2 separate regions of the Homo sapiens genome follow, and region 2 is linked to region 1. Evidence: fine-mapped expression QTL. Tissue or cell type: skeletal muscle. Region 1 holds a variant in brackets; the other region holds the start of a gene. All regions are shown on one strand. Distances are from middle to middle.

Region 1 (5,217 bases):
GACACCGAGGGCAGAGGTGGGTGACGCAGCCACACGGCAGGGACTCCGAGGGCAGAGGTGGGTGACGCGGCCACACGGCAGGGACACCGAGGGCAGAGATGGGTGACGCGGCCACACGGCAGGGACACCGAGGGCAGAGGTGGGTGACGCGGCCACACGGCAGGGACACCGAGGGCAGAGGTGGGTGACGCGGCCACACGGCAGGGACTCCGAGGGCAGAGGTGGGTGACGCGGCCACACGGCAGGGACACCGAGGGCAGAGATGGGTGACGCGGCCACACGGCAGGGACACCGAGGGCAGAGATGGGTGACGCGGCCACAGGGCAGGGACACCGAGGGCAGAGATGGGTGACGCGGCCACACGGCGGGGACACCGAGGGCAGAGGTGGGTGACGCGGCCACACGGCAGGGACACCGAGGGCAGAGGTGGGTGACGCGGCCACACGGCAGGGACTCCGAGGGCAGAGGTGGGTGACGCGGCCACACGGCAGGGACACCGAGGGCAGAGATGGGTGACGCGGCCACACGGCAGGGACACCGAGGGCAGAGGTGGGTGACGCGGCCACAGGGCAGGGACACCGAGGGCAGAGGTGGGTGACGCGGCCACACGGCAGGGACACCGAGGGCAGAGGTGGGTGACACGGCCACACGGCAGGGACTCCGAGGGCAGAGATGGGTGACGCGGCCACAGGGCAGGGACACCGAGGGCAGAGATGGGTGACGCGGCCACACGGCAGGGACACCGAGGGCAGAGATGGGTGACGCGGCCACACGGCGGGGACACCGAGGGCAGAGGTGGGTGACGCGGCCACACGGCGGGGACACCGAGGGCAGAGGTGGGTGACGCGGCCACACGGCAGGGACACCGAGGGCAGAGGTGGGTGACGCGGCCACACGGCAGGGACACCGAGGGCAGAGGTGGGTGACACGGCCACACGGCAGGGACTCCGAGGGCAGAGATGGGTGACGCGGCCACACGGCAGGGACTCCGAGGGCAGAGATGGGTGACGCGGCCACAGGGCAGGGACACCGAGGGCAGAGATGGGTGACGCGGCCACACGGCAGGGACACCAGATTGCCCTCACGTCCTCACAAGGAACGAGCCCCGACAGAACCTTGATCATGGACTTCCGGCCTCCAGGACTGAGAGACGATGAACTCTGTTTCAGCTGCCTGGTCTATGGCACTCTGTCACCGCGGCCCCAGCAAACCGACACTAACACCTGGCAAGCAGGCATCTCAGGACGCACCTCAGTCCTCGTGACGACTCCAACAAGCGGGTCGGCCCTGTCTCCAGCTGAACTGAGCCAGGTTGGGCAGGGACGCGTGGTCGCATGCCCAGGATCACATAGACAGGAGAACAAACGGGCTGTCATCACACGGAAGGGAGCAGTGAAGGGCGGTGGCCGAGGGACACGGAGGGAGGGAGCAGCTGCGCGTTGCTCACTGTGCTGCGGTCCCAGGAGCCAGCTGCCCGAGGGGCAGCTTCTTTTATAAGAAAACGACACTTCCTATCACGTCTATGCAAATGTCCATTTTAACTTTAAGTGCACAGATGTCTAATGGCCCGAGACACGTAGGTTAACACCCGTGCACGCGTACACAGAGGCCTTCACCTACAACCATCCCCGTGTAGACAGCATCAGAGGCAGGGCACCAAAAGCATTAAAACCATGCAGATGACCTACCTGAGCACTTCGCAGACCTAGAACGTCAACTATGTAAAATACCTGCCCATGAACATTGGCAAACTCCTGGCCTCAAGCAATCCTCCCACCCTGGCCTCCCAAAGCGCTGGGATCACAGGTGTGAGCCACCATACCCGGCCTCCTCCAGGAGGCAAATGCTGAGGAAAGCCGTGGATTCTACTGACCCACTGGATTTTGCTGAAGCTGTGTGCGCGCGCATGTGTGTGTGTGCGTGCATGTCTCTCCAGATTCTGTCTCTCTCCCAGACCAGCGGTTCTCGATGGATGTGCTGAGACACTTGGTGTTGTCTCACATGGAGTGGGGGGAGGCCAGGGACGCTGCTCAGTGCCCTGGAGTGCCCAGGACGGCTCCATCCCAGAGGATGATCCGGCCTCAACATCCACAGCTCCCACTGGGAGAAAGCTGGACTAGAAGAGGAGGACCTGAAGAGCCTGTGGGTGCACCAGGCCCTTGACACAACACCGTCTCATGACCTCGGCGCAGTGACCTATGCGGCAGGACTGGGGATGGAGGTGTTCACTCAAGGCCACTGGAGCCACAGGCACGGCAGGATCCGCGCCCGGCAGGCGCCTGACCTGCCCCCACACTCAAGATCAGAGGCGTTCAGTGTCTTGGTTCCCCTAAAATGCCTCTACATGAGGTGAACAGCCACCACCCCCTAGAAAATGAGGCGTGGGCTGCCTGACCGCATAACCCACCCCGCGCCAGAGACAAGCAAGGCATTGGCCCGCCACGCTTTAAACAGTGGCTGACGTCAGACTCAGATGACACCGGCGACGTGGACCTCCACGCCACTAAACAAGCATAGTCCCAGACACACTGGGTGTGCCCACAGCTTTGTTTCCCTTTCAGGGAAAGCAACATC[C/T]ATCAGCAATCATTAAAAAACAAAACAAAACAGAGAGCAAAAGAGCCAGACCCAAAGCACACACAGGGTGTGACACCGACTCCATTTCTATGAAATGTCCAGGACAGGCCCATCCAGAGACAGGAAGGAGACGCGTGGGTGCCGGGGCTTGGGGAGGGGAAGGGGAGTGACAGCTGGTGGGGACCAGCTTCCTTGCTCCCTTTTGGGGCGATGAGACAGCTCTGGAACCAGAGAGTGGTGATGGTTGCACAACCCTGTGAAGGCACCAAATGCCACTGAATTTCACGGTGTGGGGATCACAGCGGTGTGGGAATCACAGCTCAATGTTTTAAAGGGGGAGAAATCTACAAGAGCTGTGTTTTGTGTCGCTGGACAGGGAGTTACGGTCTTCCTGAAAGCTCCTGCGGGATGGTAATGAGTTTTCCGCCCCCATCTCAGGACACAATGGACAGCCCAGAACTTTGAGGTCTGGGATCAGGACTGCCTAGAGCCGGCGGGCAGCCAGTCCCAGAATCCAAAGATCTCATGTACGACACATCAGGGCCCACGGCAGTCAACCACCACCAGAAAGTGAAACCACAAAAGCTGACGTCATCCGCCCCGGCCAACAGGGTTCAGAGAGCAAACCAGTCAGGTCTCCTGACCCCCAAGCCCAAGGAAAACAGACACATGCCACCCGAAAGGTGAAGATTTTTGGTTTACGGAGTTTCTTTTGTTTTATTTTTAAGCACGTTTTGACAACAGCATTACAATAGCCAAAAGCAAACAGCCCAAGTGTCCACGGACAGGTGAGTGGATCAACACAATGTGGCCTAGCCACACGACGGAACGCTACGCAGCCATGAAAAGGAAATCCTGACCAGGCTACAACATGGGCGGACCTTGAGGACGTCGCACTCAGTGAAATAAGCCAGAAACAAAGGTACAAAACCTGTGTGACTCCCCTCCTAGGCGGTCCCTAGAGTCGTTGGATTCACAGAGACCAAAAGTGGAATTGGGGGTGCCAGGGGCTGGGGAGTGAATGTTTCATGGGGACAGAATTTCAGCCTGGGGAGATGAGAAACTTCTGGAGATGATGGTGGCGATGGCTACATAGCTGTGTGAATGTGCTTAAAGCCACTGAACTGTGCATTTATAACTGATTAAGATGGTAATTTTTGGCCTGGCATGGTGGCTCACGCCTGTAATCCCAGAACTTTTGGAGGCAGAGGCAGGTGGATCACCTGAGGTCAGGAGTTTGAGACCAACATGGTGAAACCCCATCTCTACTAAAAATGCAAACAAAATTAGCCAATCATGGTGGCGCACACCTGTAGTCCCAGCTACTCAGGAGGCTGAGGCGGGAGAATCGCTTGAACCCGGGAGGTGGAGGCTGCAGTGAGCTGCGATAGAGCCACTGCACTCCAGCCTGGGTGGCAGAGCAAAACTCCGTCTCAAAAAAAAAAGAAAGACTGGTCGGGCACAGTGGCTCATGCCTGTAATCCCAACACTTTGGGAAGCCGAGGCAGGCGGATCACCTGACATCAGGAGTTCGAGACCAGCCTGACCAACAGGTGAAACCCAGTGTACAAAAAATAGCCGGTCGTAGTGGTGCGCGCCTGTAATCCCAGCTACTTGGGAGGCTGAGGCAGGAGAATCACTTGAACTCGGGAGGTGGAGGTTGCCGTGAGCCAAGATCGCACTACTGTACTCCAGCCTGGGCAATAAGAGCAAAACTCCATCTCAGAAAAAAAAAAAAAGACCAGGCGCAGTGGCTCACACCTGTGATCCCAGCAGCACTTCGGGAGGCCAAAGCGGGGGGATCACTTGAGCATAGGAATTCAAGAGCAGCCTGGGCAACATAGGGAGACCCCATCTCTGCAAAACATTAAAAAATTAGCTGGGTGTGGTGGCACACATCTATAGCCCTAGCTGCTTGAGGGGCTGAGGCAGGAGGATCGCTTGAGCCCAGGAGGTCCGTGCTGCAGTGAGCTGTGATCACACCAATGCACTCCAGCCTGGGAAAGAGAGTGAGACCCTGCCTCAAGAAAAGAGTTTCTCTTCAAAGTCTGGGGTCTTTGAGATGAGGGTCACACCCAACCAGGTGTCTTTAGCTGAGAATGGTGCCGACATCTCTTCAGAGGTTTCATTGGAAATGATTCTGTAACAGGCGGCATCAGGTCAGGATCCCCAGGCAGACACACCTCACTTGGTGACCTCAGATTTGGAAGAGGCAACAGCAAGCAGCAGAAACAAGACCTGGGCCAGGAGCGGTGGCTCAGGCCTATAATCCCAGCACTTTGGGAGGCTGAAGTGGTCTGGAGTTCCTGACCAGCCTGGCTTCTACTAAAAATACAAAAATTAGCCGGGTGTGGTGGCGGGTGCCTGTAATCCCAGCTACTCGGGAGGCTGAGGCAGGAGAGTTGCTTGAACCTGGGAGGTGGAGACTGCACTGAGCTGAGATCGCACCACTGCACGCCAGTCTGGGTGACAAAGCAAGACGTCATCTCAAAAAAAAAAAAAAAAAAAGAAATCAGACCTGGCTGAGTCCCCGCATAAACCTAGAAGGCGGGGGTCACAGCCCCCTCTTACAGAGGGAGTGACAGGCCCAGACAGGTGGCACACGCAAGATCCTACCAGTGACAGCTGGAACTCGGCTTAGCA
Region 2 (5,217 bases), 44 kb after region 1:
TCATCGTTGGTTTGCGGATGGGCTGGTGACCTATTTTGGAGCACCTACATCAGTGCCGTCCTCCAGTCTGACTCGGTTTGAACGATTAGAGAATTTTATTTTTCCCTGAACTTGAAATTGGGAGGAGGGAATGCTGTCGGCACGTGGAGGTGCTTGGAGTGGGGCCTGCCAACCCGGAGGACGCTACGGCTGTGATGAAGGCTACCCCACTACATCGTCCAAGCACCTCCAACCCAGTTTACGGTGGGGTCCGGACCTGCCCCTGAACTTGGCGGTTATGTGAGCCTATAAATTCCCAGTTATTATTTATGTTTTTATTGGCTGGGCACAGTGGCTCACACCTGTAATTCCAGCACTTTGGGAGGCTGAGGCAGGCAGATCACTTGAGGCCAGAAGTTCAAGACCAGCCTGGCCAATATGAGGAAACCCCGTCTCTACTAAAAAATACAAACATTTAGTCAGACGTGGTGGCCCTTGCCTTAGTCGGTGTGAGAACTGACTAATGCAATTAGTGAGACTATATTATGAACCTTTATAGTGTTAGAAATAAATTTTCGGTGCCACAAAAGAAACAGCACTCGAACATTAATTTTCTCAGCACGGCAATTTTACTTCTATAGAAGGGTGCGTCTGGCAGGTGGAGCCCAGCGCCGCGCTGCGGGGCCTGCTGGGACTTGTAGTTCACAGGCTCAGGGTGCGCAGGCGCAATGCCGAGTTTGCCTCTGCGCGAGTCGGGGTTGGCGGCGCCTGAACGAGCACACCTGAACGAGGGAGGAGAAGGGGTTCTTACCCCTGACGCAGGTACCCCTACTGCTGTGTTGTTCCCCTATTGGCTAGGGTTGGCCCGCACAGTCTAAGCTGATTCTGATTGGCTGTTTTAAAGAGCAGGGGTATGAGCCAGAGTGGCGGGGTGAGTAGTTTGGCAGGAAGGACGGCTACAGAAAAGGTGACTCAGAATGACTAAGAACAGAGCAGGTGACCAAGGATAACTAAGGTCAGAGCAGGTGACAAGGGTGACTAAGAACAGAGCAGGTGACCAAGGATAACTAAGGTCAGAGCAGGTGACAAGGGTGACTAAGAACAGAGCAGGTGACCAAGGATAACTAAGGTCAGAGCAGGTGACCAAGGATAACTAAGGTCAGAGCAGGTGACCAAGGATGACTAAGGTCAGAGCAGGTGACAAGGGTGACTAAGAACAGAGCAGGTGACCAAGGATAACTAAGGTCAGAGCAGGTGACCAAGGATAACTAAGGTCAGAGCAGGTGACCAAGGATGACTAAGGTCAGAGCAGGTGACAAGGGTGACTAAGGTCAGAGCAGGTGACCAAGGATGACTAAGGTCAGAGCAGGTGACAAGGGTGACTAAGAACAGAGCAGGTGACCAAGGATAACTAAGGTCAGAGCAGGTGACAAGGGTGACTAAGGTCAGAGCAGGTGACCAAGGATAACTAAGGTCAGAGCAGGTGACCAAGGATGACTAAGGTCAGAGCAGGTGACAAGGGTGACTAAGAACAGAGCAGGTGACCAAGGATAACTAAGGTCAGAGCAGGTGACAAGGGTGACTAAGAACAGAGCAGGTGACCAAGGATGACTAAGGTCAGAGCAGGTGACCAAGGATAACTAAGGTCAGAGCAGGTGACAAGGGTGACTAAGAACAGAGCAGGTGACCAAGGATAACTAAGGTCAGAGCAGGTGACAAGGGTGACTAAGAACAGAGCAGGTGACCAAGGATAACTAAGGTCAGAGCAGGTGACAAGGATGACTAAGGTCAGAGCAGGTGACCAAGGATGACTAAGGTCAGAGCAGGTGACCAAGGATGACTAAGGTCAGAGCAGGTGACAAGGATGACTAAGGTCAGAGCAGGTGACCAAGGATGACTAAGGTCAGAGCAGGTGACCAAGGGTGACTAAGGTCAGAGCAGGTGATAGGGGCTAGGAGGGGTTGTTTACTGAAACTAGGGGCAAGGAAACGAAAAGAACGAGGAAGTTAAAGTTTAAAATGAAGAACAAAGAATAGGTGGCCGGGCGCGGTGGCTCACGCCTGTAATCCCAGCACTTTGGGAGGCTGAGGCAGGCGGATCACGAGGTCAGGAGATCGAGACCATCCTGGCTAACACGGTGAAACTCCGTCTCTACTAAAAATACAAAAAAATTAGCCGGGCGTGGTGGCGGGCGCCTGTGGTCCCAGCTGCTTGGGAGGCTGAGGCAGGAGAATGGCGTGAACCTGGGAGGCGGAGCTTGCAGTGAGCCGAGATCGCGCCGCTGCACTCCAGCCTGGGCGACAGAGCGAGACTCCATCTCAAAAAAAAAAAAAAAAAGAACAGGGGAGCTGAATATACGGAAACATTGGTTCTTTGGAGAGGAGCTCATAACTGATTGTACTTAACAATTTACAGGCTAAAACCTTTGAAGAGGAATTTGTTGTATCCTACAACAGTATATTAATTATAGTAGTTTTACTATTTTAATTTCTCATAAATAACAATCAGTAGAATATTAAATAAATATTTAAACAATAATTTAATTTGGCTGGGCGTGGTGGCTCACGCCTGTAATCCCAGCACTTTGGGAGGCCAAGGCGGGCAGATCACTGGAAGTCAGGAGTTCGAGACCAGCCTGGCCAACATGGTGAAACCGCGTCGCTACCAAAAATATAAAAAATTAGCCGAGTGTGGTTGTGCACGCCCGTAATCCCAGCTACTTGGGAGACTGAGGCAGGATAATCGCTTGAACCCGAGGGGGCGGAGGTTTCAGTGACCTGAGATCATGCCATTGCACTCCAGCCTGGGCGACAAGAGCGAAACTCAGTCTCAAAAACAAACAACAATTACTTAAGCAATCATTTTAATAAGTATGTAATACATTATACGTTTATATAACTTGCTTAATAAATAATAGTAGTTATTAATATCCAATGGCAAGCCGCCGGGAAACGACGGAGCTGGGATTTGAGGATTGGCTCCGCGAACCCCACAACACCCGGGGACTCCAGCGAACCACACGGGGTGGATCCAACAGCCGCAGGGGCATCGTGGTCCTGCGGAGACGCCGCCCGCCCGGAGGCGGCGCTGTGACCCAGGTTGGAGAGTCAGGAGCCCAGCGCCGCGCTGCGGGGCCTGCTGGGACTTGTAGTTCGCAGGTTCGGGGTGCGCAGGCGCAGTGCCGAGTTTACCTCTGCGCGCGTCGGGGTTGGTGGCGGCGGCTGCGGCGAGTTCCTGAGGGGCGCCTGCGGGGGGCGTCCGCTCCGAGCGCCGAGGAGCCGAGCGGAGGAGGCGTCCCAGGGACACGCAGGGGAGGCCGGCCGGCCTGCACGGGGCGCTCCCGCCTCGGGGGCCCTGTCTGGCGCCTCAGCGCGCGCCCCGATGGTCACCTGCGCCCACCTGGGCCGGCGCGCGCGGCTCCCGGCAGCTCAGCCGTAAGTGCCGCCGCCTCCCGCGCCGCGACCTCCGTGCCGGGCCTGCCGGGGCTCTGGTGGGGCTGGGTCTGGCGGGGCCGGGTGGCCGGGGCATGACCCTGTCGCGATAGGGTCCCCACGGGAGGGTCGGGAGCCGGCAGCTCGCCCAGGGCCCCAACGCCCAGGATGGCACGGTCTGCCCTTGCCCTGTGAAAACGCCCCTGGGTGAGAGACGCATAAGCTTTCCGAGGCCCAGCCTGCAAGGAGAGGGAGAAGACGCATTGACTCTACCCTAAAGGCAGAGAGGGGCTGCCACGCTCGCACTGCAGTGAGGCCACATCAGAGGGTCTGAGCGAGGGGCGGTCCTGCCCTCCAGGGGACACCGGGCGATGTCTGGGGACGTCTGTGGTTGTCATAACTGGGGGCAGTTCCTGGCATGGAGTAGGTGGAGGCCAGGGATGCAACTCAGCACCCTGCCCAGCCCAGAGAATGACCCAGGCTCCAGTGTCCACAGCGCCCTGAGGGAGAGACCTCACTTATACGTTAGCACCGCTGTCCTGGTGATAAGACAGCAAGGGTCCTTTTTTTTTTTTTTTTGAGACGGAGTCTGGAGTGCAATGGCATGATCTCGGCTCACTGCAACCTCCGCCTCCCGGGTTCAAGCCATTGTCCTGCCTCAGCCTCCCAAGTAGCTGGGATTACAGGCGTATGCCACCACGCCCGGCTAATTTTTGCATTTTTAGTAGAGACGGGGTTTCACCATGTTGGCCAGGCTGGTCTCGAACTCCCACCTCAGGTGATCCACCCGCCTCAGCCTCCCAAAGTGCTGGGATTACAGGCGTGAGCCACCGCGCAGCTGCAAGGGTCTATTCTGTTTATACCCACCACCCATGTTGAGGAATGAGGGAGGCAGCTGACCTTTCTGCTGCTCTAGCAACCCCAACCTCCCTGAACTCTCCCCTACCCAAACAGGTTGGTTTCTTTTTCTTCTTCTTTTTTTTTTCTTGAGACAGTCTCGCCCTATTGCCCAGGCTGGAGTGCAGTTGCACGATCTCGGCTCACTGCATCCACCTCGTGGGTTCAAGTGATTCTCCTGCCTCAGCCTCCCAAGTAGCTGGGATTACAGGTGCACGCCACCCCGCCTGGCTAATTTTTATATTTTTAGTAGATACAGAGTTTCTCCATGTTGGCCAGCCAGGCTGGTATCGAACTCCTGACCTCAGGTGATCCACCTACCTCGGCCTCCCAAAGTGACCACTGCGCCCGGCGCCTTTGGTTCTTACATGAGCCTCCTGGAGCTGCTGTGACAATGCACCACAAACCAGGGGGCAGGGGGAGGCTTGAAATTTATTCTCTCACAAGTCTGGAGGCCAGAAGCCCAACATGAAGATGTGGTGGGGCCGTGGTGCTTCTGAAGGCTCTGGCGGGAGGATCTTCTCTGTCTCTTCCAGCTTCTGGGGGTGGCCTGCCATAGTTGGTGTCCCTTGGCTTGGGGCCACATCACTCCAAGCTCTGCCTGCATCATCATGTGGCCTTCTTCCCTGTGTCTCTTTCTCCTTTTTTGTTTTTATTTTTATTTTTTGAGATGGGGTCTCGGTCTGTCACCTGGCTGGAGTGCAGTGGCACGATCTCGGCTCACTGCAATCTCTACCCCACAGGATCAAGCAATTCTGCCTCAGCCTCTCGAGTAGCTGGGATTACAGGTGCACGCCACCACACCCAGCTAATTTTTGTATTTTTAGTAGAGACGGGGGTTTTGCCATGTTGGCCAGGCTGGTCTCGAACTCCTGACCTCGTGGTCTGCCCGCCTTGGCCTTTCAAAATG

Evidence for each region. PIP is the estimated chance that this variant, and not a neighbour inherited with it, causes the effect. A credible set is the group of variants that fine-mapping cannot tell apart.
Region 2: ZNF554 starts here. The variant in region 1 is the best candidate, but not a certain one, in a credible set for the expression of ZNF554 in skeletal muscle (FUSION, PIP 0.64).

What each region holds. Positions count from the first base shown.
Region 1 is chr19:2,772,954-2,778,170 of GRCh38, forward strand. The region is part of intron 1 of SGTA (small glutamine rich tetratricopeptide repeat co-chaperone alpha); the gene reads right to left. Among named protein-coding and RNA genes, the nearest start is that of SGTA, 7.7 kb to the right of the region's middle. The variant C/T (reference allele first, on the strand shown) is at 2,575.
Region 2 is chr19:2,816,712-2,821,928 of GRCh38, forward strand. It overlaps ZNF554 (zinc finger protein 554), which reads left to right and starts at 3,157. Exons shown (of 5, transcript NM_001102651.2): 1 at 3,157-3,413. The coding sequence starts at 3,361. RefSeq lists a silencer at 3,196-3,635 and an enhancer at 3,568-4,261.